Homo sapiens: one gene and its partners. The protein of the gene in region 4 interacts with the protein of the main gene of each other region in a pairwise test. Each region holds a gene or a part of one and is shown on either strand. Other genes may lie near its edges. The genes, in order: SLC38A7, APOL2, BUD31 and PANX1.

What was found.
Region 1: the proteins of PANX1 (region 4) and SLC38A7 interact in binary tests that used the Homo sapiens proteins (3 or more experiments, as listed by UniProt).
Region 2: the proteins of PANX1 (region 4) and APOL2 interact in binary tests that used the Homo sapiens proteins (3 or more experiments, as listed by UniProt).
Region 3: the proteins of PANX1 (region 4) and BUD31 interact in a two-hybrid assay, tested with the Homo sapiens proteins (one large-scale study listed by BioGRID and IntAct).

What each region holds. Positions count from the first base shown.
Region 1 is NC_000016.10:58,677,948-58,685,935, forward strand, and holds the start of SLC38A7 (sodium-coupled neutral amino acid transporter 7), read right to left. Parts: upstream 6,824-7,988; 5' UTR 6,770-6,823; intron 6,385-6,769; exon of another isoform or gene 6,232-6,384; 5' UTR 6,008-6,231; intron 2,295-6,007; 5' UTR 2,180-2,294; coding exon 1,910-2,179; intron 948-1,909; coding exon 749-947; intron 528-748; coding exon 386-527; intron 1-385. UniProt on the Homo sapiens protein: Symporter that selectively cotransports sodium ions and amino acids, such as L-glutamine and L-asparagine from the lysosome into the cytoplasm and may participates in mTORC1 activation. The transport activity requires an acidic lysosomal lumen.
Region 2 is NC_000022.11:36,234,081-36,242,562, forward strand, and holds the start of APOL2 (apolipoprotein L2), read right to left. Parts: upstream 5,448-8,482; 5' UTR 5,361-5,447; exon of another isoform or gene 5,056-5,360; intron 2,769-5,055; exon of another isoform or gene 2,516-2,768; intron 256-2,515; exon of another isoform or gene 156-255; intron 1-155.
Region 3 is NC_000007.14:99,409,830-99,416,968, forward strand, and holds part of BUD31 (protein BUD31 homolog), read left to right. Parts: intron 1-204; 5' UTR 205-340; intron 341-1,234; 5' UTR 1,235-1,263; coding exon 1,264-1,357; intron 1,358-2,115; exon of another isoform or gene 2,116-2,154; intron 2,155-2,359; exon of another isoform or gene 2,360-2,466; intron 2,467-4,148; exon of another isoform or gene 4,149-4,249; intron 4,250-6,308; coding exon 6,309-6,431; intron 6,432-6,909; exon of another isoform or gene 6,910-7,139. UniProt on the Homo sapiens protein: Involved in the pre-mRNA splicing process. May play a role as regulator of AR transcriptional activity; may increase AR transcriptional activity.
Region 4 is NC_000011.10:94,174,571-94,182,558, forward strand, and holds the end of PANX1 (pannexin-1), read left to right. Parts: intron 1-1,176; exon of another isoform or gene 1,177-1,318; intron 1,319-3,798; coding exon 3,799-4,022; intron 4,023-5,031; coding exon 5,032-5,687; intron 5,688-6,219; coding exon 6,220-6,299; 3' UTR 6,300-7,398; downstream 7,399-7,988. UniProt on the Homo sapiens protein: Ion channel involved in a variety of physiological functions such as blood pressure regulation, apoptotic cell clearance and oogenesis.

The DNA of each region.
Region 1 (7,988 bases), on a different chromosome or scaffold from region 4:
CCTTCCTTCATGCCAAGCTGCAGGTAAGATGCTGGTAGGCTGACAGTCTCAAAGACCCAAATTCCTCCCAGGGAATGCCAGGAGGCTGCCTTCACCGCCCAGATACCACCTGTTCCTTCTTTGACAAGGGCACTTAGAACTGAACTACTCATGGATGCAAAAGGACATTTAGAACTGAATCTCTCATGGATGCATCCTTTTTCTATGATGGAGACAGAAAAGGATGGTCTTATCTGAAACCCTGCAAGCCCCGGTCTGCCCTGCCTTGCCTACTCTTGCTCCCCAAGGTGAGGTGGCATGGAGGAGCAGGGTTCCCCAGGAGCCCTTGGGTCTACAGCTGCCCAGGATCATAGCTTCTGTCTGACCCAGGCTGGGGCCTCCAAACCTGGCATATTTCTGGAAACCAATCTCCCTGGGGATGGAGAGGGGCAGGATGAAGAGGAAGGCAGTGAGGCTGATGGTGAACTTGCGGTCTGTGTACCAAGGGCCGCTGGCCCCCTCCGGCTCTTTCGCCATCACAGCTATAACTGCACAGGGAGGAAGGAGGGAATGTCAAGCCAGGCCACCATGGGGTGTGGCCCTCCTGCTCTGCTGGGCCCCAGGACCTCCCTCTGCCTGGAGGGAGGATTCCCAGATGAATGCTGGGCCCAGGTAAGTCCTGGAGAGGTGTTCAGTGCCTTTTCCCTCCACCCCAGGATCCCTGGGGCTGATAAGAAGAGATGGGGTAGGGACTGAGGGAGAAGCTCACTCTTGTCCTGCTGGTCGCCAATGATGATTAGGAAGGCAATGCAGGTGCCAAAGGTGTAGACAGCGATGGCCACCTCACATAGCACACCTGTCAGCTTGCCACACACAGCCCATACCACCTCCTGGTAGGTCCTCTCATTGCTGGCCTGGGAGCAGTAGGCCAGGATGACAAGGCCACTGATGATGAAAACCAGCATACCCTGCAGGCAGAGGCAGAACAAGAGCTTGTGGCAAAGGCCTGGCAGCAGAGGGCACCCTGGGCTCGCCTAGCATTTACTGGGCCAGTGCCCAAAGCAAGCTTGGCAAATCTCACAAAGGCAATTTTAAGAGACTGCTAGAGGATGCCGAGTTGAGATTTTCTTTAAAAACAAAAAGTTTTTTGAAAAATTGCCAACATACAAAAGTAAAGAGAATAGGCTGGATGCGATGGCTCATGCCTGTAATCCCAGCACTTTGGGAGGCTGAGGCAGGAGGATCACTTGAAGTCAGGAGTTTGAGACCAGCCTGGCCAACATGGTAAAACCCCGTCTCTACTAAAAATACAAAAATTAGCTGGGCATGGTGGTGGGTGCCTGTAATGCCAGCGACTTGGGAGGCTGAGGCAGGAGAATCACTTGAAACTGGGAGGCAGAGGCTGCAGTAAGCCGAGATCGGGCCACTGCACTCCAGCCTGGGTGACAAAGCAAGACTCCATCTCAAAGAAAAAAGTAAAGAGAATAGTAAAAAGAACTGGCATGTATCCATCACTCAGCTTCAAAAATGATCAATGCATGGCCAACTTGTTTCATCATTCCCCTTCCCTCCCACTCTGCATTTATTGTGAAGCCAATATAAGCTATCATATCATTTCATCAATAAATATTTCAGTATGTAGTTCTAAAAGATAAGGGCCCTCTTTTTAAACATACCACAAAATCAATGTTACACCTAAAAAATTAGAGATGTAATTGATGTTCAAATTTCTCTGATTGTTGGAAGGCTTCTGAAGCCTCATTTGGGTCACAGGAAAGAATACTAGAATAGATTAGTCATGTCTGCCATGTGTGAGGGAGGGGAGAGCAGTGCGTGTATCACTTACTGGCCATCCCTGACCCGAAGCCTCCCTTTTGAGGCAAAGCGCCCAACTGAACTGCACCTCTGCCCTCCCGGCCAGTGCACTCACCATCTGCAGTGCGATGCCTGCTGCCACGCCCCCCGCAGTGCTGAAGGCTGCTGGGAAGTTGAGTAACCCTGCACCCAGGCACGCGTTGACGACGATGAAGATGGCCCCAAGTGTGGAAGTGGTGCCTCTGTCCAGACCCCCAGGAGAGGCTTCCCACTCACTCTTGGGGGCTGTGTCCACACAGGGACTCTGCAGCAGCCGAGCCCGCTCCCCGGCATCCGTGCTCAAGTCCCACTCGCTGTAGTCATTGTTGATGCTGACCTGGGCCATGGCCCCGAGAGCCTTCTTCCTGCAAGGTCTGTGGGTTCTGCCTTACAACCACATGCCTCAGGGAGCTGAGCAACACCCACCTGTTTGGGGCTGTTAGCTTAGGACTCTTCTCAACCTAGATGGGACAAAGGCAGGCACTACTGTTATCCTAAGATGGGGGAACTAGGGGACAAAAAGGTGTAATAACTTTCCCAAGATCACATGGGTAGGGTCCAAACCCAGGTATGCCTCTGTGCAGACAGTGCACTGGGTGCCAGAGTATGGGGAGACAGACACAGAAACAGATCAGGTGCAAATCATGCTTGCTTCAGGCATACAGACTCAATGGACCAGTTAGATGTCAACATAAAATGGGTACTAACACATCAGCACTCGATAGAGGCCCCGCATCGGGCAGGTGTGTCATGGATATACTTTATCTCATTCAATCCTTAGGATGGTCTTGTGGTCAAAAGGTTCGGAGAGATCCCATCACTGACCCAGGGTCATATATTAGCAAGTTGCATAGCAGGATTTGGATCCAGATCTGTCTGGCTTCCCAGCCTGTTTCCACCCCACAGGGTCCCAAAAGGACCCCTTACCAAGAACTGAGATTCAACATATTACAGTCCAGCACGCCTCCCGGTGGCCTGGAGTCTGAATTCTGTGGCTTTCGAGGCCCTTCGAAATTCAGGCCAATTCTCGACTCTTCTCTCATGTGACAAGCCCCCATGCCTGTCATGTTTGCGTCTTCAGGAAAACAGTGATTCATCCCATGCTTCTAATGCTCCCAACTCCTTTGCCGCCACCCTTTTAGGTCCTATTTCTTCCCCATTTCCTGGGTCACTCACTGAGCTCTTCTTGGAGCCATGTAGGGGCCCAGAACCACTCTAGCTGGTTTCTTCTCAGTACTCTCTCATGTGCTAGCATCTCACTGGCCACTAGGCTTGCTTTCCTGGGCTAGATTACAATGATCAGTGCCAAACATGCAGTGCTGTTTGTCACTATAAACCACTATTGCTGCAGCTATGGAATGCTTTCTCATTCAATCCTCAATGCAGCCCTAAAAGGTAGACATGACAGTCACCATTTTACCAAAGAGGAAGCTGAATCCCAGAGGGGATAACCACTCTCCCCTCAGTCATATGGCGGTCAGTGGTGGAGCTGGGATTCAAACCCAGGCCTGTCTGACCATAGGGCATCCATCTGTTTGTATCTGCCCCACTCCTGGGTCCAAGATGGTACCTTGGGTATGGCAGAACTCAGATAACAGGCTTATCACCTGACTGATTCTCTTTGCTCTCTGGATAAACACAATTGAGATGCAGTTTTTTTTCTTCCAAGAATCTCGAGAGGCTCTGAGGAGCCCAGCCCTGAAAAAGGATCTTCAGTGTTCTCAAGGTTCAGCTCATAGCCTGAGACCCGCAGAGAAATGATGGTCCTAAAGCATCAAGTCCACCCCCAGATCAAGAGCAGCCCTGGGCAGGGCTGTGATCTGGGTCTCCGAGTAGGTTCTGCCGTCAGAATGCTGACTCCTCCGCTGCCTATCTGTGTGACCCTGGGCAAGTCACTTCGCCCCTTTAGGCCTTTACATCATATGTTCCTGTGGGTCGTGTGTTAATATCAGTAAGGGTTTAAGACTCAATAAATGGTCACTGCTGCTGTTATTTCTGCAGATGCCCCTTCCCATGTTGCCCACCACCACCATGCCTGAGACTCTCCAGCCCTAAGCAAGCAGGGAGCAGAACACTGATCAAAACCAGAGCCTGGGCCGGGTGTGGTGGCTCACATCTGTAATTCCAGCACTTTGAGAGGTCGAGGTGGGCAGATCACCTGGGGTCAGGAGTTTGAGACCAGCCTGGCCAACATGGTGAAACCCCATCTCTACTAAAAATACAAAAATTAGCCAGGTGTGGTGGTGCACCCCTGTAATCCCAGCTGTGCAGGAGGCTGAGGCAGGAGAATCGCCCGAAATTAGGAGACAGAGTTTGCAGTGAGCCCAGATCACGCCACTGCACTCCAGTCTGGGCGACAGAGTGAGACTCTATCTCAAAACAAACAAACAAACAAAACTCAAACCACAGCCTGGTGCTATTGGCCAGGTAACAATGGGCACAGAGGCCCTGGGATAGCTAATGGGAGAAAGAGCAGGAAGAAGGCCAGATTTCAAGGGCAGGAACTAAGGGGGCAGGGAGGAGCCAGGGCAGTCTTCCCCAGAGGCTGCTATTAGCTGGTTACCACCCAGGCTGGCGAAATCTGCCAAAGACTCCTTCTCCTAGAGTCTCCTCATTCCTGAGTCCCGATTTCACGGTACTCATACAAAACTCCATTTTAATCTCTACTCCCTCCCTGGTTTAGTCTTTATTTATTTAGAGACAGGGTATCACTCTGTTGCCCAGGCTGGAGTGCAGTGGCGCAATCAGAGCTCACTGCAGCCTCAATCTACCAGGCTCAAGCAATCCTCCCACCTCAACTTCCCGAGTACCTGGGACTACAGGTGTGTGCCACCACAGCCAGCTAACTTTTAAAATTTTTTTTTTTTTTGAGACGGAGTCTTGCTTTGTCACCCAGGCTGGAGTGCAATGGCACAATCTCAGCTCACTGCAACCTCTGCCTCCCGGGTTCAAGAGACTTTCCTGCCTCAGCCTCCTGAGTAGCTGGGATTACAGGTGCCCGCCACCATGCCTGGCTAATTTTTGTATTTTTAGTAGAGATGGGGTTTTGCCATGTTGGCCAGGCTGGTCTTGAACTCCTGACCTTGTGATCCCCCTTGGCCTCCCAAAGTGCTAGGATTACAGGCGTGAGCCACCACGCCTGGCCAACTTTTTAAATTTTTTGTTCCTGTGGGGAACAAAATTGGCCTTTCAAAATTCAGGCCAATTCTCAACTCTTCTCCCATGTGACTTCTCCCACGTGACAAGCCCCCCACGCCTGTCATGTTTAAATTTTCTGTAGAGATGAGGAGGTCTCACTATGTTGCCCAGGCTGGTCTTGAACTCCTGGGCTCAAGCAATCCTGCTGCCTCGGCCTCCCAAAGTGCTGGGATTACAGGCGTGAGCCACAGCCCCCAGCCTGGTTTAGTCTTTATAGCCCAGAGGGAAAAAAAGGGAACTGAGCATATTCAGCCATAATGACTGCCCTAACCATTGGGCCACCCTCTCTGATGCCTTCAGCCCACTGGGGGTTTAAAATGACTAACAAGACCCCTTGGACTACTTCCCATTGCTCCTCCTGATGATGGACAAACAAAGCTGGGGACCATCCACTCATGAGAGGGAAAGGGTGAAAGTTCATGTGCTCTCAGCCATCTGTTATCAAGCATGGAACCAAGGGACATGGCACCAGAGGAAACATTCCTCTGCTGGCTCGAAACCCAGAAAGATCTGTCAGATGTCACAGGGCTTACACATCCTCTTACACATCCTGTCACCCAACCAGCAACTCAGCAAAATCAAAGCAGTGAGCAGCGAAGGCAGAGTCTTGGGACTCCCAGGCTTCCAGTGTAGCTAGAGAAAGAACCCTGCAAAGTGACCACTGCCAGAGCTGTGACCATCTCCTCCCCGCTGCTCACGTCACAGAGACAGAGGTCTACAGAGTGATTCGTCCAAGGTCACAAGGCTTGGTGCGGCTTCCTGACTCTCCAACCAAAATGTTTCCCTTGGGCACCCCTGCCCGAGTCCTGCACCATCCTCCAGCCTCTCCTGCCACCCACATGAGAGTGCAGGCTGGGGTCCTCGTGGAACTCAGAAGCTGGGGGTCCCACCTCTTGCAGATTCTCTGCCTTGGTTAAGACCTCTCGGCACCCCCACTGCTCACTGGCAAATTACTCAGCTCATTGTTGCACCTTACCTGCTCTTTCTCCCTGATGGGCTGTGCCAGAGGCGGTTGCTCCTTCTCCCCAAAGGTCTGGGATCTGATTCTCCTCACTTCCCTTTCTGGACCCAATTTCTTCTTTCTCAAGACTTTGCCTAAAATTTGCTGTCAGCAGAGGGAAGAGTTTGGGCTACTTCTGTGCTGGCTTCAGCAGAGCTGGAGGAAACTGAGCGGCTCTCACGCTTACTCATGAAATGGAGCTTCAGGACAGATAGGAAAACAGGCCCAGGAGGGAGAGGTTAGACTAAGGTCACAGTGGGTAGCTGGCAGAGCCAGAATAGAAGCCTGATGCCCACATGCTCAGGCCAGCGATGTAGGCCCCTCAGATCCCAACTGGAGTGTGCTCCCAGTCCAGCCTGGGGTTGGAGCCCTGAGATAGAAAGGGTGGGCTGCTTTGTGAGGTGAGGCTTTGTGAGGTGAGCCAGGGCGCACCCGGGCCAGGAGGCCGGGGCGGGGCGATTCCCAGGCCTGGAGCGAGAAGGGTGGGCTACTGTGGGGTAACCTGGGGAGGAGCTCCGGGACCCGATCCCGGCCTAGGACTGGGTGGAGACCCTCTGGCTGGGTAAAGGCGCGGCAGAGCTGGCGCAACAGAGGGACGGGCGTGGGGCGAGGACGCCAGGATCTGGACCCCTGCAGGGAAAGGGTCTGAGCTTTTCCGCGGTGGCGGGGACTGAGGGGCTCCACAGACCTCGGGGATCTAACACTTCCACCCTCCAGAGCCTGTCTCCGGCCACCTACCTTGGGGGATTCTTTCCCGAGCCGGCTGCGGAGACACGTGAGCATGCATCACATGACGCCCGCTCGGGCGGCCGCGGGACACGCTGGGAGTTGTAGTTTCCGCAAATGTGAAGCTTGGACAACACCAGCTCCCTGAATCCTCAGCCCGACAGCACTGCCCTGAGCCAGCCTCGCGTCCAGCCAGCTCGTGTTTATCCTCTTACTTTTAGTCTTGGCCTCTTGACCAAATCAAACACTGCTCCTTCCTCCAAGGAAGAGCATTAGGAGGTCTGGCCTCTTTGCCAGTCCCGGTGGCGGTGGGCCAAAGCTGTTTGGCCTCATTATCCTCCCGGTCTCTGTCCTTGCCTTCACGCCCATGGCCAGAGCACTGGAGTTTTTTTTTAATCAGTAATGTGGGGGACCTGGAGCCACGGTCTTTCCTGCAAGGGAGTGGGCTGGGGGCATGGTTACGACCCCATCGGTTTAGACTCTAGAACAGTTTTTGAGGGATTGTAGGTGCTCAGTAAATATTTGTTGAATGACGAAATGGGCATCCAGTCCTGGTTCTGTTCTTGGCTGTGTGTCACTCATAAATTGTCACGTAATCTCCAGCATCCCAATAGCCTCATCTCTGTTTTGTGGATATGCTCTCCACTGCACTTACCTCTCCATGCATCAGAGGTCCTCACCGATGAGGACACACTGGGAATCCTTAGAAACCCAAATCACACCTTTTTTTTTTTTTTTTTTTTTTTTTTTTTTGAGACAGAGTCTCACTCTGTCTCCCCGGCTGGGGTGCAGTGGCACGATCTTTGCTCACTGCAACCTCTGCCTCCCGGGTTCATGTGATTCTCCTGCCTCAGCCTCCCGAGTACCTGGGATTACAGGCATGCACCACCACTCCCAGCTAATTTTTGTATTTTTAGTAGAGATGGGGTTTCGCCATGTTGGCCAGGTTGGTCTCAAACTCCTGACCTCAAGTGATCCACCCACCTCAGCCTCCCAAAGTGCTGGGATTACAGGCATGAGCCACCGTGCCTGGCCTCCAAAAAGTTTATATAAATTGAATCATACTGGTTGAGTGCGGTGGCTCACACCTGTAATCCCAGCACTTTGGGAGGCCAAGGCGGGCTGATCACTTGAGGTCAGGAGTTCGAGACCAGCCTGGCCAACATGGCGAAGTCCTGTCTCTATTAAAAATACAAAAATTAGCTGGGCATGGTGGTGCACGCCAGTAGTC
Region 2 (8,482 bases), on a different chromosome or scaffold from region 4:
GACCTTAGGGTGTTTCTAATTCTTCATATAAATTATGCTACAAAGAATATCCTCCCTCACGTAAAACTGCTCACATTTGAGATTATTTCCTTAAGATACTTTTAAGAGTAGAATGACTAGGTCAAAAGCTATTAACATCTCAAAAGTTTTTATACCTAGAGCCACTCTGTATGAAAACTGTACAAATTCACACTCAAACTAACAGGATATGAAGATGTCCATTCTTTCAGTCTTACTGGCTCTCAGTAGTCTTTTCTTCAGGAAAACAAAACAAAACAAAACATTATTCCTTGAGACAAGGTCTCACTCCTAGTATGCAGCCCAGGCTGCTGGCAAAATCCTGGCCTTAGGGGATCCTCCCACCCTGCCCTCTAAAGTGCTGGATTACAAACATGAGCCACGACACCCGGCCTGAATAAATGCTGATCTTTATATAGAGGAAAGTTCTTCACATTCTGCTCCTGATTATCTTACCCTGGGAGGTGAGGGAAAATAGCAAATGTTAATCATATTAATCATCTTTAGGCACTGTTTTAAGAAGACAGAAGAGCATTTATCAACCTCCCCTCCTGAGATCAAACTACAGCCATAGTCAAGGCACTTACAGGTATAATGGCACTTAATGTTAATGTGGGCAAACATTGGTGGATTTTGCACCACTAATTGCTCTAAGATGTTATAAATAGTAACTCACAGAACTCTTCCAAGAACCTAGGAAGTGTGTACCATTGGTATTTCCATTTTCAGGTAAGAAAACTGAAACAGATGTTCAGTGACTTGCCCAAGCTCAGAATCTACTACGTGGTAAAGACTGGGTTCCCACCCAGACAGACGGACTCAAGAACTCACGCACTGCCTCTGCACCCTCTGCTGCCAATGAAAATTTAAATGAGGGCAACAGGAGATCAGAGATGCCAAGAGATGTTGGAAAACAGAACTGGCTGAAGAAATGACAACTGAATAAAGAGGGGTGAAGGGAGCTGTGAACCACAGCAATGCCAAGAGGGCATCCAGCCAGGCAGAGTGGTCTACTAGGCAGAGCCTCAGAGAGGGGAGGAGTTCACCAGGCCCACGTGCCATATGGGATTCATGCCAGCCTTGAGTCTACACCAGTGAAAAAAATCAGAGAGTTCATGACTGAAGCAATATGCCCCAGAAATAATATCTTTGTATTCTGACACTTCAGTGGGTTCCCATTCAATCACCCTACAGGGAAGACTGCCAGTAGACCTGCCCCCCACCCCGTTCAATATGAATAGATCTAGGATCAGAAATTGGAGAAAGGTGAAAGTGGGGAAACAGACCAAGATGACCAAATACAAAAGGAGTCCAGAACAAACAAGTAATTTTTTAAATCTCAAACCCATGTCCTCAGGGAGATTAAAAAATATTTTATTCATAAACTTAAAACAAGATATATAGAAAAGAAGAAAAATCAATGAAACAAACAAAAAAAGAGATTTTCTAGAAACTAAAAGGTGATGATCAAATAAACAAGTCTAGAGAGACCATGTGAAAGAAAGTCACGGAAATCCTCCAGAAAATAAACCAAAAAGATGACAGAGGAAAAGGAGCTATATGGGGAATAGAAAAGTTACCAGGCACAGGGTCACAGGGTGTTCTAAGAAAGCTACTTGAGAATGAGCCACCGGGAGGAAGAAAGGGTGGGTGGGTGGGTGTGTGTGTGTGTGTGTGTGTGTGTGTGTGTATGTGTTGTGCATCCATGGAGGGCAGGTGGGGATAACCAAGAAAGAAAAAGACATGGGATCCAGAAAACAGGAAAATCAACCCAGAGAGAAGGGAATCTGAGGATCACAGTGGGACATGCAGTAGGCCTACAAAACGACCAGTCCAGGATGGAATAAAAAGGGAATGGTTCTGTGGGAAAAAGGGACTCAATAGAATACCTCAAAGGATTCACAGTTTGAGAGAAACTGAGGAAATGAAGAAGGCAAGCAGTACAAGGGAGGAAAAAAAACAAAGGCAATTAGAAACATCAGGAAAAAGTAAAGCTGTGCCACAAAACATGTGCAAACATGGTGTACAACTCAGCTCCACAGTAAATAGTATTTAAAACATCACAAAATGTAAACACTCTTGATTGATTTTTAACTTTGAGAACAGAACAGAGCATATAAATATGAGAACTAAATATACTTGTTACCGATTAGTACAAACTTAAAGCACAAAGGTAGCAGTTGGGATGTGAAGCACTGAACGAAGGAGAAGGAGGATTAATATTGTCATCTTTTAAAGAGGGGAGTCAAGAAATACTAGGTAAAACTGAGAGTATAAGAAAGAAAGTTGTAAGTAAATTGTTTACAGCTACAAAGTTGCTAATGGAGGACATAAAACTGGTGATACAATATTAGGAAAAGGTGGAGAGGAGAGATAGAGGGAGTGTACAAACAAGATGAAAATGACTAATAATGACACTATAAGTAATAATGATAATACCGATTCAGGCCCATCCCAGTTAGGGGCGGCTCCAAAATCACCATTGTTCTTTTCTCACCTTGTGTCTCTGCGCACTCCCCGGCACACCCACTTCCAGCAGCTGGTCTTTGTTTGCAGACTTTATTTTAACAGCTCAGTGGTTCCCGGGCATCCTCCAGCTCTTATACAAAAGCCCCCTCCTCAAAAGCCACTCGCCTCCCTCTTTCCACTTCCCACCTCTGTTTCAGGGTCGAGGCATCCAGATATCTGTCTTCTGGGGCCCCTACGCAGCAAGACTAAAAGGGGGACCCAGTCCTGGGCAGCAGTTCACCAGGGGAGTATGCAGAGGGGCATCTGGACACTTCTTGCTGTAAGGGACGGGGTGACGGGAGGGGGTCTTCCCTTCCCCTTCTTCCTGCTTTGTTCACTCTGTGACACCCTAGGCCAGGGGAGCTGTCTCAACGCCATCTCATGAGCCATGAGAACCAGGAGGACCAGGAGGGAGAAGAGGAGCAGGAGGGCAGACAGAGCTGGGGCCTCGGACCTGCCCAATACTTGTGAGGAGCTGCATCCAGGATCCCATCCTCCTGGGTCATTGTTGGCCTGGCTCCCACCTTTGTCTGGAGCCTCTGCTGGGGGTTGAGGCTGGATACTGCCCCTCAGGCTTGACTAGGACACAGTGTGTACTCCATGGGTGAGCCTGCAGGCTGGTCAATTCCGGTGTCCAACTGAGCGACCTGGAAGAGGAGCCCTCCCTCCCACCTCAGCTCTGAGCCAAGCTCTCCAGATGCAGAGGACAGGGACTCTCAGCAAAGCATCTCCCTCCAAGTGGTTGTGGGGCATCCTCCTTGGGCAGGGAAAGAGGAGTCGAAATGATTTCCTGAGAAATCGTCATTTTCATTTTATTTTTGAGAAACTGTCTTGCTCTGTCACCCAGTCTGGAGTGCTTTGGGGCTATCACAGCTTGCTGTAGCCTAGAGCCCCTGGGCTCAAGTGATCCTTCTGCCTCAGCCTTCCAGGTAGCTGGGACTACAGGCACACGGCACCATGCAGGACTAATTTGTTAATTTTTCATTTCAGAGAGACAGCATCTCCTGTGTTGCCCAAGCTGTCTTGAGCTCCTAGCATCATGTGATTCTCCCGCCTCTGCCTCCCACAGCACTGAATTACAGGCCTCAGCCGTGGCACTGCACCCTTCTGAGGAATCTTCAGTGAAAAGCCACGGTCAAGTTCAAACCCCATAGCAGGGCACACAGGCCCTCTGATGCTCTGGACCCCACCTTCCTCACCGCTCCCTGCCACCACAGTCACCTTAGGTCCAGGCACCCACTGACGCCCTGCTTCGGTGCCTCCTGGAGCCCATCTACTCCTCCCACTCCCATCCCCAGCCTCAGGCCTTCACTCAGCTGCTCCCTCGCCCTGGAATGTCCCCCCCACTGTCCCCACCATGTGCAAGTCACCTGTCCTCAGAGACCCACCCAAAGCTGCCTGGTCCATGCGGCGGCCCCCAACCCTCCCCAGGCTCCCTGAGCACTCTGCTTTCCAGAGGGAGCTCTACCTGTATGTGGCTCTTTGGGCCTCTGTCTCCCCTTTAGACTCTGAACATTCAATGGGGACACTGTTGTGTTCCCAGCTGCACCCCCTACGACTGACCTGGATGCCCTCCGCCCTCCCTGGCACAGCCTGGCTGAAATCCCAGGTGCAGGAGGCATTACTTGAACTAAAAGCAACCAGCCTCTGGATGACATGGCCCAGCTTCAGTTTCACTTTCAGTTGAGAAATTGAATTTAATTTTTCTTTCTATCTTGATGGGCATCTCTTTTTGGTGAAGAACAAATAAGACCATGACTCATATTTCACAGAAATTACCCCCCTGATTTCATGGACTTTTGGCAGCTCTATCAAGTTTTTTAGAGGGGAAAAATCTTAGGCTGGGAGGGGAGGTGACTTGCCCAGAGTCACACAGCTCTTGGAGGGCAGAGGGGAGGCCAACATCTGCCCTTGTGACTCTGATATTGAAGCAAAAATGGGTGATTTTAATAATCCAACAGTGTCCAGGTTTGATTCTGCTTCTACAAACACAGAGACCTAAGCTCTCACTCCTGTAGTTATACTCACAATTCCACAGTGTGGCTTTTGAATCTCATGATTGCAAAGCTGGCATCATGCCACAGGTACCATTCTGCAATGCGACCTTCTCACTCCCCTGTCTCAGCCATGTTTCCCATTAGGGACACAGCACAGCCTGTTTCTTCTCTATCAGCTCAGAGGTCTGAACAGAGGGACAGAGGTGAGGGCCAGAGACGTGAAGTCCTATGATCTGCCTGCTCAGCCTCCTGACACGGGACCCTGGCAAGTCATTCCCCTCCCAGGGCCTCAGTTTCCCCACAGGGCCTGGCACAAGTAGGTGCTCAGACTCAGGGTGAGTGAGACAACCTCTGAGTTCCTTGTGTCTCAAAAGAAATCTGTTGTTCCCATTGGGCTTCAGCAGCAGCACCCTGGGGCCAGCCTGGGTGTGGCCCGGCCACAAGGACATGCCGGGCTCCAGGTCACCTCCCCTCCTCCACCTTCTTTGATTCCTTCAAATTTCCCAAAGAGATGGGCACCCCCAACACCTACCTTTCTTCTGGGGTCAGCTGGCCGTGTCTGAGGGTGTCAGAACCAGAGCTGAGCCCGGGGAGCTTTGTGAACCCATCTAAGCTGTTTTCCCCACCTCTCTCTACAGTTTACCCGCCCAGCAGGAGGGAGGGAGCAATCAGACTCAAGCCTGGGTGCAAATCCCGGCTCTGCCACTGCTTTCCTGTCTGATCTGAACCAGCTACCTAACCTCTCTGAGCTTATCTACAAAAGCTGAATGATCCTTCCCTTATAGAGCTATTGCAAGAATAAGGACATGGGGGTAGATCACACTATCCCCAACTTACCAAGGGATCTTCCTCTGACAGAGACTGAGCAAGATCCAACTGTTCTGAGCTGTGTGGATCCCACGTCCAGCTGTGCATCTGTGTAATAACCAGACACGTCCTCCGGCCTCCCAGATATACCCTGGAATTCGAAAGGGAAAGTGAAAGTCACAACTTCCCAGCAGCTCATGACCAAGCACAGTAAACACGCTGCTCCCCAGCACCACCTGCAGTCCAGGCCCAGCCTCCTTGCTGCTGCACTTAGAGGAGCAGCCGCAGACCAGACATCCGGGTCCCTCTCATCCAACCCACCTGCCTCACATCCTCAGGATTCAAGGTCTGCTGTGTCAGCTGCCCATGTCTCAGGCAGTCAGAACCAGAGTTGAGCCTGGGGAGTTTTTTGAACCCATCTGAGCCGCTTGCCCCCCAACCCCCGCCCCGATCTCTGCAGTTTAAGGGCACAGCAGGTGGGGGAGAGAAGTCAGACTCAAGCCTCAGTGCAATTCCAGGCTCTGCCCCTGTTTTACTGTCTGATCTGAACTAGTTACCTAACCTTTCTGAGCTCAAGAAAGACCTGCCACTGACTGACCGTGGGGCTCTCCAGATTACTCCCCGTCCTTCCGTTCCCCCACATTCCTCAGATGCCTGCCTTACTCCCACACATGCCATCAGCATCAGCACAGTCCCCCACACATGCTGGGTGGATGCTTATTGCATATTTATTGTAATGCTTCTGAGGTTATGTTTTCTGTTATGTTTTTGATATAGAGTCTTGCTCTGTAGCCCAGGCTGGAGAGCAGTGGCACAATCATAGCTACTTCAAGTGGCACAATCAAGCCATCCTCCCATCTCAGCTTCCGAGTAGCTGGGATTACAGGTGCCTGCCACTACACCCAGCTAATTTTTTGTAATTTTAGTAGAGATGGGGTTTCACCATCTTGGCCAGGCTGGTCTTGAACTCCTGACCTCAAGTGATCCACCTGCCTTGGCCTCCCAAAGTGCTGGGATTACAGGTGTGAGCCACGGCGCCCAGCCCATTGTATCCTTCTTGTGACTTTGTGTCTTCATAGCTTAGCTCCTACTAATAAATGAGAACATACAATATTTGGTTTTCCATTCCTGAGTTACTTCACTCAGAATAATGGTGTCCAACTTCATCCAGATTGTTACGGATGCCATTATTCCCTTCCTTTTTACAGCTGAGTAATATTCCATGGCATATACATATATAGGGGTGTGTGTGTGTGTGTGTGTGTGTGTATATACACACACATTTTCTTCATCCACTTGTTGGCTGATGAGCATTTAGGTTGGTTCCATATTTTTTCGGTTGCAAATTATGCAGCTATAAACATGCATGTGCGAGTATCTTTTTTATATAATAACTTTTCTCCTCTGGGTAGATACCCGGTAGTGGGATTACTGGATCAAATGGTATTCTACTTTTAGTTTTTTAAGGAGTTGCCATACTGTTTTCCATAGTGGTTGTACTAGTTTACATTCCCACCACCAGTGTAAAAGTTTTCCCTTGTCACCATATTCACACCATTTTAGCTAGGCTGGTCTTGAACTCCTGACCTCAAGTGATCCACCTGCTTTGGCCTCCCAAAGTGCTGGGATTACAGGTGTGAGCCACTGCACCCTTCTATTCTTCTTTGATTTTTAAATTATGGCCATTCTTGCAGGAGTAAGGTGGCAACTTATTGCAGTTTTAATTTGCATTTCTCTGATAATTAGTGACGTTGAGCACATTTTCATATTTTTTTGGCCATTTCATTTTGTATATCTTCTTTTGAGAATTGTCTATTCATGTCCTTTGCCCACTTTTTGATGGGATTATTTTTTTTTTCTTGCTGATTTGTTTGAGTTCCTTGTAGAAACTGGATATTAGTCCTTTGTCAAATGCACAGTTTGCAAATATTTTCTCCCACTTTGAGGGTTGTCTGTTTTCTCTGCTGATTATTTATTTTGCTGTGCAGAAGCTTTTTACTTTAATTAGGTCCCATCTCTTTATTTTTGTTTTCGTTGCATTTATTTTTGGGTTCTTGGTCCTGAATTCTTTGCCTAAGCCAATGTCTGGAGGAGTTTTTCCGATGTTATCTTCTAGAATTTTTATGGTTTCAGGTTTTAGATTTAAGTCTTTGATCCATCTTGAGTTGATTTTTGTATGAGGATACTGTTTCATTCTTCTACATGTGGCTTGCCAATTATCCTGGCACCATTTGTTGAATAGGGTGTCCTTTCCGCACTATACGTTTTTCTTTGCTTTGTCAAAGACTAGTTAGCTGAAAGTATTTGGCTTTATTTCTGGGTTCTCTATTCTGTTCCCTTGATCTATGTGCCTATTTTTATACCGGTACCATTCTGCCATTATGTACCTTTTTTTTTTTTTTTTTTTTTTTTTTTTGAGATGGAGTCTCTCTCTGTCACCCAAGCTGGAGTGCAGTGGTGCGATCTTGGCTCGCTGCAAGCTCCACCTCCTGGGTTCATGCTATTCTCCTGCCTCAGCCTCCCGAGTAGCTGGGACTACAGGCGCCCACCACCACACCTGGCTAATTTTTTTTTTTTTTTTTTTTTGTATTTTAGTAGAGATGGGGTTTCACTGTGTTAGCCAGGATGGTCTCGATCTCCTGACCTCGTGATCTGCCTGCCTTAGCCTCCCAAGGTGCTGGGATTACAGATGTGAGCCACTGCACCCAGCCCTTGTACCTTTTAAGTGAACCATTTAGCCCATTTTCATTCAATGTTAGTATTGAGATATAAAGTGCTGTTCTATTCATCAGGCAAGTTGTTGCCTAAATACCTTATTTTTTTCATTGTGTTATTGTTTTATAGGCCCTAAGGCTTATAAAACAATATGCTGTAAGGAGGTTCTATTTTGGTGTATTTCGAGGTTTTGTTTCAAGACTTAGAACTCCGTTTAGCATTTCTTGTAGTACTGGCTTGGTAGTGGCGAATTCTTTCAGCATTTGTTTGTCTGAAAAAGACTTTATCTCTCCTTCATTTATGAAGCTTGGTTTTGCTGGATACAAAATTCTTGACTAACAATTATTTTGTTTAAGGAGGCTAACAACAGGACTCCAGTCCCTTCTGGCTTGTATGGTTTCTGCTGATAAATTAGCTGTTAATCTCATAGATTTTCC
Region 3 (7,139 bases), on a different chromosome or scaffold from region 4:
GAGAGATGAATCTGTTATGCTGAAAGGTAAATACTTAACCTGGGTTCTCTCTGGCAGCAAGGAAATGCTGTGTGGTTTGAAAAACGCTTTGCTATTTAGATTGGGATCGGCCTCTTGTATGGGAACTACCTGACTTTATGTAATATGTTGTTTGGTGTGAAAGAGACCTTGGCAATCAGCCAATCCACTGCCCTCATTTTACAGAAGAAACAGGACCAGAGAGGGAAGGTGACCTGAAAGTCACAGAATAATTTTTTAGAGCTGAACAAGAATCCAAGCCTGCAACTGCAGAGACGAGAGATCTTTCTGCTGTCTATACTCTTGGAAAGCACATCCTAAGGTACTTTGATTTTACAGTCATCTTTCCCTTTTTATTTTATGTTTTGTTTTGTTTTGTTTGTTATTGAGACATGGTCTCACTCCGTCACTTAGGCTGGAGTGCAGTAGTGTGAACATGGCTAACTGAAGACTTTCAACCTCCTGGGCTCAAGTGATCCTCTTGCCTCAGCCTTCCGTGTAGCTCAGACCACAGGCACCCACCACCATGCTCAGTTAATTTTTTTGATTTTTTTTTTTTTTTGGTAGAGATAGGGTTTCACCTCATTGCTCAGACTGGTCTCAAATTCCTGGGCTCAAGTGATCCTCCCATCTCAGCCTCCCAAGGTGCTGGCCAAGACCAGAATTACAGGCATGAGCCACCGTGCCTGACCTTCCATCTTTGCCTTTTTAAATACTCACCCCCATGGCTCCCCGAGTCACAGCCCTCCTTATACTCTATTGTAATTGCTTTTTCTCTTGTCTGTCTCTTTGCTAAAATGTCACCTTCTAAGGGGCAAAGGCTTAACTTTTGTTCTGTGTTCCCAACATCCAGTATAGGGTTAAGCTTTTAGTTGAAGTTAGCTAATGACAACAGCAAATGTCTCTTAGGCACACATTATACACCAGGCATGATAGATACAATTCTAATGAAGTCTTTGCAATGACCACATAAGGTAGCTTCCATTATCCCCATTTTACAGATGAGGAAACAGAGGCTTAGGAAGGTTAAGTACCTTTCTGAAGATCACAGCGGGTAAGTAGCAGAGCCAGGATTTGAACACAGTCTGGGTGCTGAGCCCTGTCCCATAGCTGTGACCCTATGCTGACTCAAGGAAGTCAGCCTGTACCGAAATAATGGCTGGCAAAGGCCTTTGGGGATTTGAGACTCAGAAACCAATTCATTTTTTTCCCCCAGATCTTTGCAGATTATCCTGTGGAAGGAAAATGCCTAAAGTCAAAAGAAGCCGGAAAGCACCCCCAGATGGCTGGGAGTTGATTGAGCCAACACTGGATGAATTAGATCAAAAGATGAGAGAAGGTGAGTAGGGGAGTTCCTGTCTGGGTGGGCTGGGTCCAAGGGTCACAGGCTTAGATGCCCCCAGGGGACAGGCATAAATGCAAATATAAAAAGAGAGTGGTCTACTAACACTGACATGTTGTGTTTGCTTATGAACTTGGGGAAATACTGTAAGTGCCCGAAAATAAGATAACATTAATGAAAAGGTCCTCAGAAAAGGTGTTTTTTTTTGTTTTTGTTTTTGCCAACTCGAATATAAAAGGTTATGAAATATAGATCAAATAGTCTACCTATAGTTATTTACTATTTTGGTTAGATATATATTTAAAATCATACAAAATATATTTACTTGGAAGTGCTATTCCTTTTCAGTATCATCGATTAGTCTTTGCCGCATCTGTTTTCTGTCACTTCCTTGTAAATGGCGTGTGATCCTGCTTTGTGAACCCGTGTCCTATGCTGTCTTTGGAAATTTTATCTGAAGCCACAAGCATCTGTTGGCCTTATATGATCACAGTGTGGCCACTTACCAATTGACTTTTTTATTTTTATTTTTTGAGTTGGAGTCTTGCTCTGTCTTCCAGGCTGCAGTGCAGTGGCGTGATCTCGGCTCACTGCAACCTCTGCCTCCCGTGTTCAAGTGATTTTCCTGCCTCTCAGCCTCTCGAGTAATTTGGATTACAGGCATGCGCCACCATGCCCGGCTAATTTTTGTATTTTTAGTAGAGATGGGTTTCTCCATGTTGGCCAGGCTGGTCTCGAACTCCTGGCCTCAAGTGATCCACCCACCTCGGCCTCCCAAAGTGATGGGATTACAGGTATGAGCCACTACACCCAGCTGAAGTTACTTTTTAAAGTAGCTTTTGAAATGCTTGCTTGTAACTAACCTAATCATGGTTATTATGAGGTCGTACCTCCAGCAGTAATTACTAAATTAAATCAATGTTAAATTACTTTGCCCCTTTTTAAAAAAACTGTTCGTACCAGATAACTTCTATTAAATACTCAGTACTTGTTTTGCAGTTTAGATTTGGATGGGCCTATTGCAGTAATCACGGTCATTTTGGGCTGAGAGATGTCTTCCCGAAACAGCTCTTTATCAAAATAAAGGAAATGGGAGCATGCTGGAATAGAAGAGATTTTGCAAGTCCTTGAAAGTAAATTAACTTCATCTTCTAAAGGGTGACTTTTGAGGGAAGGAGGAACCCTACTTTGTGTTTAGATATTCTTTACCTCCAGACAGAAGTATTCTTTGTTCTGTTTTCTTTTTGTTTTTGTTTTGAGACAAGGTCTCACTTTGTTGCCCAGGCTGGAGTGCAGTGGTTCAATCACAGCTCACTGAAGCCTCCACCTCCCAGGCTCAGGTGTTCCTCCCACCTCAGTCTCCCAGGCAGCTGGGACTACAGGCATCCACTGCCACGCTTGGCTAAGTTTTCTTTTCTTTTTTTTCTTTTTTTTTTTTTTGAGACGGAGTCTCGCTCTGTCACCCAGGCTGGAGTGCAGTGGCGCGATCTCCGCTCACTGCAAGCTCCGCCTCCCAGGTCCACACCATTCTCCTGCCTCAGCCTCTGGAGTAGCTGGGACTACAGGCGCCCGCCACCATGCCCAGCTAATTTTTTTTTTTTTTTTGTATTTTTAGTAGAGACGGGGTTTCACCATGTTAGCCAGGATGGTCTCGATCGCCTGACCTTGTGATCCACCCGCCTCAGGCTCCCAAAGTGCTAGGATTACAAGCATGAGCCACCGCGCCCGACCAACGCTTGGCTAATTTTTTGTAGAGATGGGGGTGTGTTAGTCCATTTTCACGCTACTGATAGACATACCTGAGACTGGGCAATTTACGAAAGAACGAGATCTAATGGACTTACCGTTCCATGTGGTTGGAGAGGCCTCACCATCATGGCAGAGGCCAAGGAGGAGCAAGTCACGTCTTAACATGTGTACCTGCTGAATCTTTACTACCTGCTTTTCTGCTTGGATCACAGCATTCTGTTTGTTGAGCTGAATTGTAATTCCTAGGTAATAGAATGGCTTAAAAGCTGGAGACAGGGAGGGATAGTCTTCTTGACCACTCTTCGCCCTTCTGTTCTTCCCTAAAAACTGAGGAGGTCATAGACAAAGATGAACTTGTGACTGCTGAGAGAGAGAGAACTGCCTTGCGGCAAGTATGAGTGCCACCTGATCCTGCGTGTGTTGAAGGAGCAGCTTCTGCTGTGGCTACTTCCCTCAGAACCTGTAGACTGGTCTAGTTTATTTAGCTTTTCCTCAGCCCTAAAGGACTTTGGCTGGGAGATGAAATTAGAAGTGCCTTCAAGATGATTAGGATGCCCATCTGTGGGCCTAGAATTATCTTGATTAATTATTACGCTGTAGAAATAGATCTGAAAGCATAGGGACCAAGGTTGGTTTTTTGGCTTTTTTTTGTTTGTTTTGTTTTGTTTTTTTTTGAGACAGGGTCATCTGTCATCCAGGCTGGAGTGCAGTGGCACAATGTCAGCTAACTGCAACCTCTGCTTCCCAGGTTCAAGCACTTCTCGTGCCTCAGCCTCCCGAGTAACTGGGATTACAGGCATGTGCCACCATGCCCAGATAATTTTTGTATTTTCAGTAGAGACAGTGTTTTGCCCTGTTGGCCAGGGTGTTCTCGAACTCCTGACCTCAAGTGATCCACCCACCTCGGCCTCCAAAAGTGCTGGGATTACAGGCGTGAGCCACTGTGCCCAGCCGGGACCAACCTTTTAACAGAAGTTACCATTAAATGTCTTTAAAAATCTATGTTTTCTAATTCTGTAATTAAAAAGACTTTTTTTCTTGTCACATGGGTAATGTGCCAACGTTGTGACAAGGTTTGAGAGTGGCATGTCTCACACATGGATGTGAACACCCAAGCACACTCATGAATTACAAAAGGATCCAAAAATAGACATTTTTAATTTAAAACAATTATGTTTAAATTACTTAGCTTATTTTTTATTTTTTTATTTTTTTTTTTGAGACGGAATCTCACACTGTTGCCCACGCTGGAGTGCAGTGGTGCGATCTTGGCTCACTGCAACCTGTACCTCCCGAGTTCAGGCAATTCTCCTGCCTCAGCCTCTTGAGAAGCTGGGATTACAAGCGTGCACTACCACGCCCGGCTAATTTTTTAATTTTTAGTAGTGATGGGGTTTCACCACGTTGGTCAGGCTGATCTCGATCTCCTGACCTCGTGGTCCGCCCACCTTGGCCTCCCAAAATGCCCGGCGGCTTATTCTGTTTTTAAATAACAGCTTTATTGAGATATTAATCATATACTGTAAAAGTGAACCTGTTAAATTATCCAATTAAGGGGTTTTTAGTATATTCACAAAGTTGTACGACCATTGCCACAGTTAGTTTGATGTTTCAAGGTTCATCTGTGTTGTAGAATATATCAGTACTTACTTCATTCCCTTTTTTTTCTTTTTTTGAGACGGGAGTCTTGCTTTGTTGCCTAGGCTGGAGTGCAGTGGTGTGATCTCAGCTCACTGCATCCTCCGCCTCTGGGTTCAAACGATTCTCCCACCTCAGCCTCCCAAGTAGGTGGGATTACAGGCATGCGCCACCATGCCCTGCTAATTCTTTTGTATTTTTAGTAGAGATGGGGTTTCACCATGTTGACCAAGCTGGTCTCAGACTCCTGACCTCAAGTGACCTGCCCACCTCAGCCTCCCAAAGTGCTGGGATTACAGGTGTGAGCCACCGATTCCGGCCAGCCCTGTTTAACTTCTTGAGGAGCCACCTAACTCTTCTGCAGTGGCTCCACCATTTTACATTCCCACCAGGAACGTAGGAGAGTTCCAATTTCTCCACATCCTTCCCAACACTTGTTATTGTGCCATAATTTTGATTATAGTCATCTGTAGGGTCCAGCCCCACAGGGTCGGTGGGTTTCTCCCCGTGTGTGGAGACGAGAGAGCGTAGAAATAAAGACACAAGACAAAGAGATAAAAGACAGCTGAGCCTGGGAATCCCACCAAGACGCGGAGACCGGTAGTGGCCCCAAATGCCAGGCTGCACTGATATTTATTGGATACAAGACAAAGGGGCAGGATAAGCAGTGTGAACCATCTCCAATGATAGGTAAGGCCACATGGGTCACGTGTCCACTGGAAAGCGGGCCCTTGCCTGCCTGGCACCAAGGCAGAGAGAGAGAGACAGCTTATGCCATTATTTCTGCTTATCAGAGACTTTTAGTACTTTCACTAATTTGCTATTGTTATCTAAAAGGCAGAGCCAGGTGTACAGGATGGAACATGAAGGCGGACTAGGAGCGTGACCACCAAAGCACAGCATCACAGGGAGATAGTTAGGCCTCTGGATAACTGCGGGCGGGCCTGACTGATGTCAGGCCCTCCACAAGAGGTGGAGGAGTAGAGTCTTCTCTAAACTCCCCCGGGGAAAGGGAGATTCCCTTTCCCGGTCTGCTAAGTAGCGGGTGTTTTTCCTTGACACTAACGCTACTGCTAGACCAAGGTCCGCTTGGCAACGGGCATCTTCCCAGATGCTGGCGTTACCGCTAGACCAAGGAGCCCTCTGGTGGCCCTGTCCGGGCATAACAGAAGGCTTGCACTCGTTTTCTGGTCAGTTCTCACTATGTCCCCTCAGCTCCCATCTCTGTATAGCCTGGTGTTTCCTAGGTTATGATTGTCGAGTGAGGATTATTATAATATTGGAATAAAGAGTAATTGCTACAAACTAAGGATTAATGATATTCATATATAATCATATCTAAGATCTATATCTAGTATAACTATTCTTATTTTATTTATTTTATTATACTAGAACAGCTCGTGCCCTCGGTTTCTTGCCTCGGCACCTGGGTGGCTTGCCACCCACAGCCATCCTAGTGGGTATAAAGTGGTATTTATTCATTATCAGTAGTTACTTACAAAAAGAAAATCCTGCGCAGACCGACCCTATTCCCCCAAACACACTCTTTGTTTCTCCCCAGCTGAAACAGAACCGCATGAGGGAAAGAGGAAAGTGGAATCTCTGTGGCCCATCTTCAGGATCCACCACCAGAAAACCCGCTACATCTTCGACCTCTTTTACAAGCGGAAAGCCATCAGCAGAGGTAATTAGTCAGTCTCTCTTGGACTTTGAAGCTCGCGTCACTTTTGGAGTTACTGAACTAACCACAATCCTTATTCTCGCAACCTGTGCAAGTCATGGTTTTTCTTACCACGAAAATTAGGGGGAGCCAACGTTGGCTGAGTTTTGTGTGTGTGTTTGTTTTTTGTTTGTTTGTTTTGAGATGGAGTCTCACTCTGTCACCCAGGCTGGAGTGCAGTGGCGCAATCTTGGCTCACTGCAAGCTCCACTTCCTGGGTTCAAGCGATTCTCCTGTCTCAGCTCCCAAGTAGCTGGGATTACAGGCACCTGCCACCACACCTGGCCAATTTTTGTATTTTTAGTAAAGATGGGGTTTCACCATATTGGTCAGGCTGATCTTGAACTCCTGACCTCAGGTGATTCACCCGACTCGGTCTCCCAAAGTGCTGGAATTATAGGCGTGGTCCACCGCTCTTGGCTTTTTTTTTTTTTTTTTTTTTGAAACAGGGTCTTGCTCTGTTCCACAGGCTGGAGTGCAGTGGTGCAATGATGGCTCACTGCAGCCTCAACCTTCTGGGCTCAAGGGATCCTCTCACCTCAACCTCCTGAGTAGCTGTGACTACAGGTGTGCACCACCACACCCAGCTAATTTTTAAATTTTTTGTGGAGATGGGCCCTTGGCCCAGGCTGGTTTCTTAACTCAAATGATCCTCTGGCGTTGGCTTCCAAA
Region 4 (7,988 bases):
GTTTTGATGATTTAATTATCAGCTTGTGTTCCCATCTGTCCTGTGTAATCTTGGGGCAGACTCTGTGCCTAGTCTGTGGGGGCCGTGCATCCAGCCCACTGCCTAGCACATAGCAGGTCCCCAGGAGATGTTTTTGAGTGAATTTACCCATCTGCACTTAATCCCCTAAGATGAGGTCACATGCATTTTAGGGGAGGAGTTGTTCAGTCCGAATTGGATGGTTCTTTGCCTTCGATGAGGTAGAGAGGATTTGAATATGGAGGGAAGTTGTACTGCTCACCCTCTAGGTTCCTTCCATCTGGAGGTTTCTGTTGTTTTAACTATAACCCATTCCAGAAACAGCACACATTTTTAAGGCAGATAGACTGAAAATTGTAGTTGGACAGCTGCTTGGTCCCACAATGATTTGAGAAGTTTCCCTATTCTTGGAAGAGCTCAATACTCACTCGAACATCATGCAGAATAGTGCCATCATGGCTTCAAGAGATGCTGAGCATCCCAGGCCTAATGTGGAGTTGACACAGCTTATGAACAAAGCTGTTTCCATCTGCAGATGCACCCTCAAAGCCCTGCAGCTTTTCCATATTTCTTATTTGAAATTAAAGACTGTAATTTTGTGTTATTTTGGATTCTTATTTCCTGTTTTACTACATTTTTATAGAATCACTGAAAGTTGCCTTTTTATTTTGGTGGGAAAAAAATAAAAAGAGGTTTTAGTGTGGAGAAAACCAAGAGATGTGGCATTAAATGATGTTATTATAGTGGTGATCAAGGTACAAGGCTATTTTAGGGAAATTTACACCCTATATGTAATTTGTTTTTCTAATTACAATGAGCTGTGCTGAACTATTCATTGTACCACTTATTGTACCAAATTATTGTACCACTTGGGCATGTTTAAAAATACCACAGACTGTAAATAGTCACTTTTTAATTCAAGGGAACAGTTCGAAGTGAAATGCCATTATTCAAATAGCTTTGAAACAAAAGTGACTTATACAGATGTTTCACAAGCCCATGTTAGAAAAAGTTTTCTCCCTGTGGTTCCCAGATAGAATGCCTGGCTTTCGTGGTTATGGAAGCAGCAGAAACTCTGTGTCATGCACTTATGTTTTTAAACTAATGGGCACCCTTCTGATTGGGCAAGAATTAAATGAACATTCCTTCTCCCCACAGCCAGCTATGAATTATGCAGCCAAAATTCAGCTAATCACAGCCTGCTTTGTGTGTCATTGTGTAGCAGCCCTTTGCAAATTGGGTTAATACTTTTGAAACACCTCATCCCGTGCCAGAATGCCAAAGTAAAGCAGCTGTCTTGGTAAGAGGGCTTTGCAAAGTTTTGGGGTCATTTGTGCTTATTTCTGTCTTGCGTCTGGGGCAGAGATTCCTTATGTGGGTCTGTGATAGTGACAGGAGGCCTGCAAACTAGGATAGGAAAATATATGACAGCTTTATTTTTTATTCACTTCCAAATAAAATTTAGCATTAAGAAAGTTTTTATGTAGGCAACAATCCATAGTGATATTAGCAGTACCTGTGAGTTTGTCACCCACAGAAAATCACAGATATCCTGGAATATCGTTTACTCTTCACTACTTCAAAGTTTCAATAGCTGTTAGATCATCTGCTAGATCCTAATTTAAGTATGAATAAAGAATTGGATGCAAAATATTAATATTTTGGTAACTGTATATCAGTGCTCTATTTCCTTTGTGAACCTATATATATATTATTTTATGCATTTAAAAACAAGGAAAGATTGAAGAACTGTCACAAAACCAAGGAGTCTAGGGAGACATGGCAACTAAATGCAGTGAGTACCCTGGATTGGATCTTGGAACAGGAAGAGGACAGTAGGGGAAAAACTACTACTGTACTTTACAAATAAAAGTCTGAAGTTTAGTTTCTGATAATGTGCCGATGTTGGCTTCTTAGTCTTAACAAATATATCACAGAAATATGAGTCATTAGCAATGGGGGAAACTGAGTGAGGGGCTTATGGGAATGCTCTGTACATCTGAAATTACAGTGAGGGCCATGTTGTGGGGGCTGCCGTCCACTCCCAGAAATGTTTTGAGGGGAGGGTTTCATGTCAACTTACGGCCATCATGGCCTCGTCCATTACAACTCTGAGAAATGGTGGAGATAGACCCATCCAAAAGTAAGGAGAAGTTTTCCAGAGGAGTAAAGTAATTGAGAGTGTGTTAGATTGGAAAAAGATGTCTCTGGGGTCAGAGAGGTTGGCAACATAGTCTGACTCTCACTTACCAGCTTTGTGATCTGGGGCCAGAAACTGCTCCCGGCTTTCTCTTCCCATTTGCAGAATGGAGCCATCTATAGAGTCCCTGCCAGGGTTGCTGTGAGGACTGAACATAACGTGTCCACCTAGCTAATCTTTTTGTGGTTACCTGGAGTGTTTGAGTGCCTGTTCTATGCCAGGCCCTTTGCTAAGCATTTTCCATCAATTATCTCCTTTAATCTTCATGACACCTCTATTCCATGACCATTTCATACATAAGGAAACTGAGGGTCAGAGACTTTGAAAACTAACCAGATGGATGGGCTAAATGCTGGGGACAGCGGGAGCCATTGCAGGTACCTGAGCAGGGTGAACTTGGCGGTTCCAAGAGTTAAGCCTCAGTAATGGTGTACAGGAGAGAATAGAGGCAGGGAGAGCCACTTGGTAAGCACAGAGTGAGGGTTCTAATTAGGGAACAGAAAGGAAAAGAAGCAGTTTTGTCCAAGAAGGCAAAGAGCAAACAAAAAGCAATACTCTTATGTCTTATTGCTGATTAGAAGATCACGCAAAAGGATAGTCGAAAGTGACATCAAGGGCCTAGACCAGGGTCAGCAAACTTCTGCAGAGGGCCAGATCATAAAGTTTTTTTGTCATTGCAGATCACATGGTCACTGTCGCAGCTACTTAGTTCTGCAGAGTAGACATGATTGCCCAAGGCCGCAATGCTGAGCTTCAATTCAGATCTGCACTGACTGCAATTTACGGTCTTCCTAAGTCTTCTGCTGAGGCTAAGCCACCTCTGACCAACTGGTGGTCCTGGTTACTGGGGTGCTCCTCACCCTCTCTGACGTGTGAATCCCCTCTTGTTTGGTGTGTGTCTGCACCCTGATGTGGATGCTCTCCTCTTGATTCCCTTGCCCGTTGTGGATGGCCTCTCTGAGCCCAAGTTTATCCAACTATACGATGAGGGTGTTGGACTGCCTTCAAAGTCTGTTCCACATTCATTCTGCATTCTGTGAATTCAACTGCTTATTTCAGCTGTCTTATTGGGATGATTACTGAATCACTGAAGTCGAAGCTTTTCTAATTTGTTTTGGGGGAAGTTACATGTTTCTTTGGCATTTTCCCAGATTCCAGAGTAGGGCAAAAATGGAGCCGTATGCCTTAGTTGCTTCTTAAAACCATAAAAGTTAACAAAAACCCAGCAGAAGCCTTCGTGATAGCTGCAGGTTTCTTAACTGGGATTTTGTTCAGGGAACGGGAGTAATTTTATTTTTTTATTTTCCTTCTGTGATTAGAACGTACACACCATGTGTCACCATGCAGTTGCTGATTACTTCAAATTAATACCTATGGAAGAAAAAAAAATAGGTAGTTACCTGTGACAGGTATTACCTGGACAGGGGAATTTAGCCATAAGAAGTAGTTATTAGGTAATGAGCCCAATTTCCACAATACACATTTGTCTCAAGATGTGAGAAAATGAGAGCATCACTTGGCGCCATAGGTTACTGCATGGGGGGTTTGTTAAGCCCATGATTTGTTCTCTTGTTTTTCAGTTTTTCCCCTACATCCTGCTGCTCTTTGCGATCCTCCTGTACCTGCCCCCGCTGTTCTGGCGTTTCGCAGCTGCTCCTCATATTTGCTCAGACTTGAAGTTTATCATGGAAGAACTTGACAAAGTTTACAACCGTGCAATTAAGGCTGCAAAGAGTGCGCGTGACCTTGACATGAGAGATGGAGCCTGCTCAGTTCCAGGTGTTACCGAGAACTTAGGGCAAAGGTAACTTAGCCCCAGCAGGCAGCTCATCGGGTTTTGTAGGACAAATTCTCTGCCCTTCTACTGCCAGTCTGGGCCCAGAGTTCTCATTGCTAGGAGGCGGGGCAGGAGTGGAAGCAGGGGGACGTCATGCACCTAGTGACAGCCTGTAGTATCCCGGGATGTCCACTCTCCCCAAATCTCACCGCGACCCATCCTACCCATTTGTTTATCCTTCTGTCAAGACTCATTCCCTTGATGAGTGAAACATTACATCTCATTTTAAAAATGCAGTTCTTGTAGGGGTAACAGATTGAGGTGCTATATGAAGCTTGCTTGCTTTGATCTATTTAACTCCTTAATGGAGACGCACAGAGGATTTCAAGGCAGCTGAGCAAGGGATGAGAGAGAAATGGGGAATGAGTAGGTCGTGGCTTGCCTTTTCACAACCTTCTTTTGGTTCTTGTTATTGAATAATTGGAATAATAATAAGAGCCATCATTTTTTGAATATTTAATATATCTCACACACCGTATTGAGTTATTTAAGTACATTATCTCCTTTAACCCTCAGAGCAACATTACTAGTGCATTTGTTAACCTCCTCCTCCACTTTTATTCTGGATAAAAATACTCTTCTGTAGCTGTAAGTGAGAGTCTGGGAACTGAACCATGCCCTTTAGACCCCATAGTTTTTGCCCATACCCCCTGAGTTGTCCCACCCCTTGCCTGTAAGAGGCGTATGCTTACACATATTTAGGATTTACCAGATGCCAGGCATCACTCTAAAAATTTCCAAATATTAACTCATTTAATTAACTAGGCCTTCTGTTAAATATTAAGGGGAAAAGCATTTTATTATTCCTTTTCTTCCTCCTCTTTTAAACGGATTTTATTTTTGACTACTGACGTTGTAGGTAAAGAAGTATGGGTGTTTGAAATTTTTAGTGTGACATTGTTGAATGTGTATCTGCCTTTAATATTTGATGGTCTTGATGAGTGCCTAAGTTATTTTTGTTTCCTTTATTTTTTAGTTTGTGGGAGGTATCTGAAAGCCACTTCAAGTACCCAATTGTGGAGCAGTACTTGAAGACAAAGAAAAATTCTAATAATTTAATCATCAAGTACATTAGCTGCCGCCTGCTGACACTCATCATTATACTGTTAGCGTGTATCTACCTGGGCTATTACTTCAGCCTCTCCTCACTCTCAGACGAGTTTGTGTGCAGCATCAAATCAGGGATCCTGAGAAACGACAGCACCGTGCCCGATCAGTTTCAGTGCAAACTCATTGCCGTGGGCATCTTCCAGTTGCTCAGTGTCATTAACCTTGTGGTTTATGTCCTGCTGGCTCCCGTGGTTGTCTACACGCTGTTTGTTCCATTCCGACAGAAGACAGATGTTCTCAAAGTGTACGAAATCCTCCCCACTTTTGATGTTCTGCATTTCAAATCTGAAGGGTACAACGATTTGAGCCTCTACAATCTCTTCTTGGAGGAAAATATAAGTGAGGTCAAGTCATACAAGTGTCTTAAGGTACTGGAGAATATTAAGAGCAGTGGTCAGGGGATCGACCCAATGCTACTCCTGACAAACCTTGGCATGATCAAGATGGATGTTGTTGATGGCAAAACTCCCATGTCTGCAGAGATGAGAGAGGAGCAGGGGAACCAGACGGCAGAGCTCCAAGGTAGGGTTTGCTTTTGGCAGAGGCTACGGGAGTCTACCGAGAGCCTTTGCAGCAGCCTTGTGGGAATATTGACAGTCTTTACCCTGCCCATCATTTAAACCATTTCCAAGCATTAAAAACCTTAATACCAAGGTGCGGGGTAGGGGGAGTGGGAACCCCTCAGTATAAGGAGAGAGAGGAAAAGAATTGGTGCTGCTCTACATTTCCAAAGAAGAATAACTTCTGTGCTTTTTCTGGTTTTTCCCTCTTCTCTGTCTGTCTCACACTCTCTCTTGCTCAGCAATCTTCCTTGTCTTTCTTGCTTATTTTTGTCTTATCTTACTGGCTTTCCTTTCTACCTCTGATCTCCTTCTCTGTTACTCTCTGACTTTCTCTTTCAAAGGGGACTAAAAGTTTATTGATTCTTTTAGTTAGGCCAAGAAGCAAAACATGGTATAGACTGTGAGAGGAATTTTTGGCAGAAGAAAAATTGATTAGTATTGGTAATTCCTGCTATGTTTCTGTCATAAATATTTGTTTTCAATTTTGACAGGTATGAACATAGACAGTGAAACTAAAGCAAATAATGGAGAGAAGAATGCCCGACAGAGACTTCTGGATTCTTCTTGCTGATGATTTTTTTCCTTGAGCTGTAAATCTGTGACTTCTGCGACATGGGATTTAATTTGGCTAAAGCACCCCTGTTGGTTTCACAGCTGGTTTGCAATAAATGGTTCTTGGTGGAGATACTGAGCATGTCTTATTGAGTCCCTAATGGAAATGGTGATCAACAAAAGGTTATGGAAGAATGGTTTATGAACTTCCCATAGGAAGCACCTGAGAGATAGTAAACTGCAGCAAGTAACTATGTGTAAGTCCTCATCAAATGAAAAGCAGAAAGACAAGAACAATTAGTCAAGAGCAGTAGCCCTGTCAGAGCCTCGGAGCAATACCTTTCTGTACCCGTGGTGAGACAAGACCCAGAGCTACTGGAAAACAAGCACTTTGGAAGATTTGTTTTGTTTTCATGGAATAATAATATGTCAGGGTATAATTTAACGTGAGTTTCTTATGTGCCCTTAAAGACTGTTAGACAAGAAAAGCATTCACTGGCTAATAATCCATAGGTCGACCTATGTCCTAAGTTAGGTGTAAGGTCCGATGCCTTGGCCCACACTCGAGCTCTCTTTACATTGTTAGTTGTCAACCTTGGCTGATGGAAATCCCGTAACCACTATTTGTTGCACTGTGCCTTGAAGGGCAGCAGGCCCAAGTGCTGCTCTGACTGAAAACTGAGTTAACAAGATGAAATCTAAAGGATATTCACAGTGACTTCAATTCAGGAAGAATGCTTCCAAAAGAGCCCAGTGGGGAAATCTGACATCACAGAAGACATTAATTCAGTCACTTTCAAAGAGTTTGTCTACAGGCGGTTTCTCTGTTATCAAAGGCATTTGAAATAGGATTTTACTTAAACAATAATGGAACACAGGAGTATTTAAAGTGAAGAACACTTTGCCTGAATGTGATCAGGGCACATAAGTGACATTGGCATGCTTCATATGGCGTGCTTGGAGCCAGAAAAACTTAGCGGTTTATTTTGTTTATATTTAAGCACAGCTTTAAAAAATTCATTATCGTTTATTCAGTGTCCGAATTGAGGCCATTTGGGAAGAAAATTCTAGCACTGGTGGAGAATTATAGAATAAAGATTATAAATGGTTGGATAAGACAAATGTAAGCTTATTTCATAAACATTTAAAGCTGATTCAGAACATGTTAAAAACTGTTCCCAATTCCAACTATGTAAATAGATCCTATGTTCACATTTTACACACACACACAAAAATCTTTAACATCTGTGGAACTTCCCAGTTTTAGTCTTAGAAAGTTAGCATGTTGCATAAGTTCAGTAATCCTCAGGAACCTCCAAGTTTACTTTTAGCTCTTACGGACAGTTGTTTACATAATCTAATTACTGTTTTCTGAAGAACGGAAATTATATAAGCTGCTGTCTGCCTTTTGGAATATTCAGAAAAGCAGATTTTATTTGTACTTCTGTGATGTTTTCTGAAATGGAAAGCTGATGATAAATATCAAAGTAGCAATCAGTGCGTTAAATTATTCTGTTACATGATATTTATTACTGTTGAATTATTCTGTGACTTAGAAATGGCAGTAACCTAAATAATGGAATTTGCAAAATTATTATATTGCCGTATCTGAGATGTTCCATCACAAGTTTCTACACTGGTTTCTTTTGAAAATTTAAAAAGATTTACGAGATACATTTTCTAGGATATGATTTTTTTTTTACAAAAA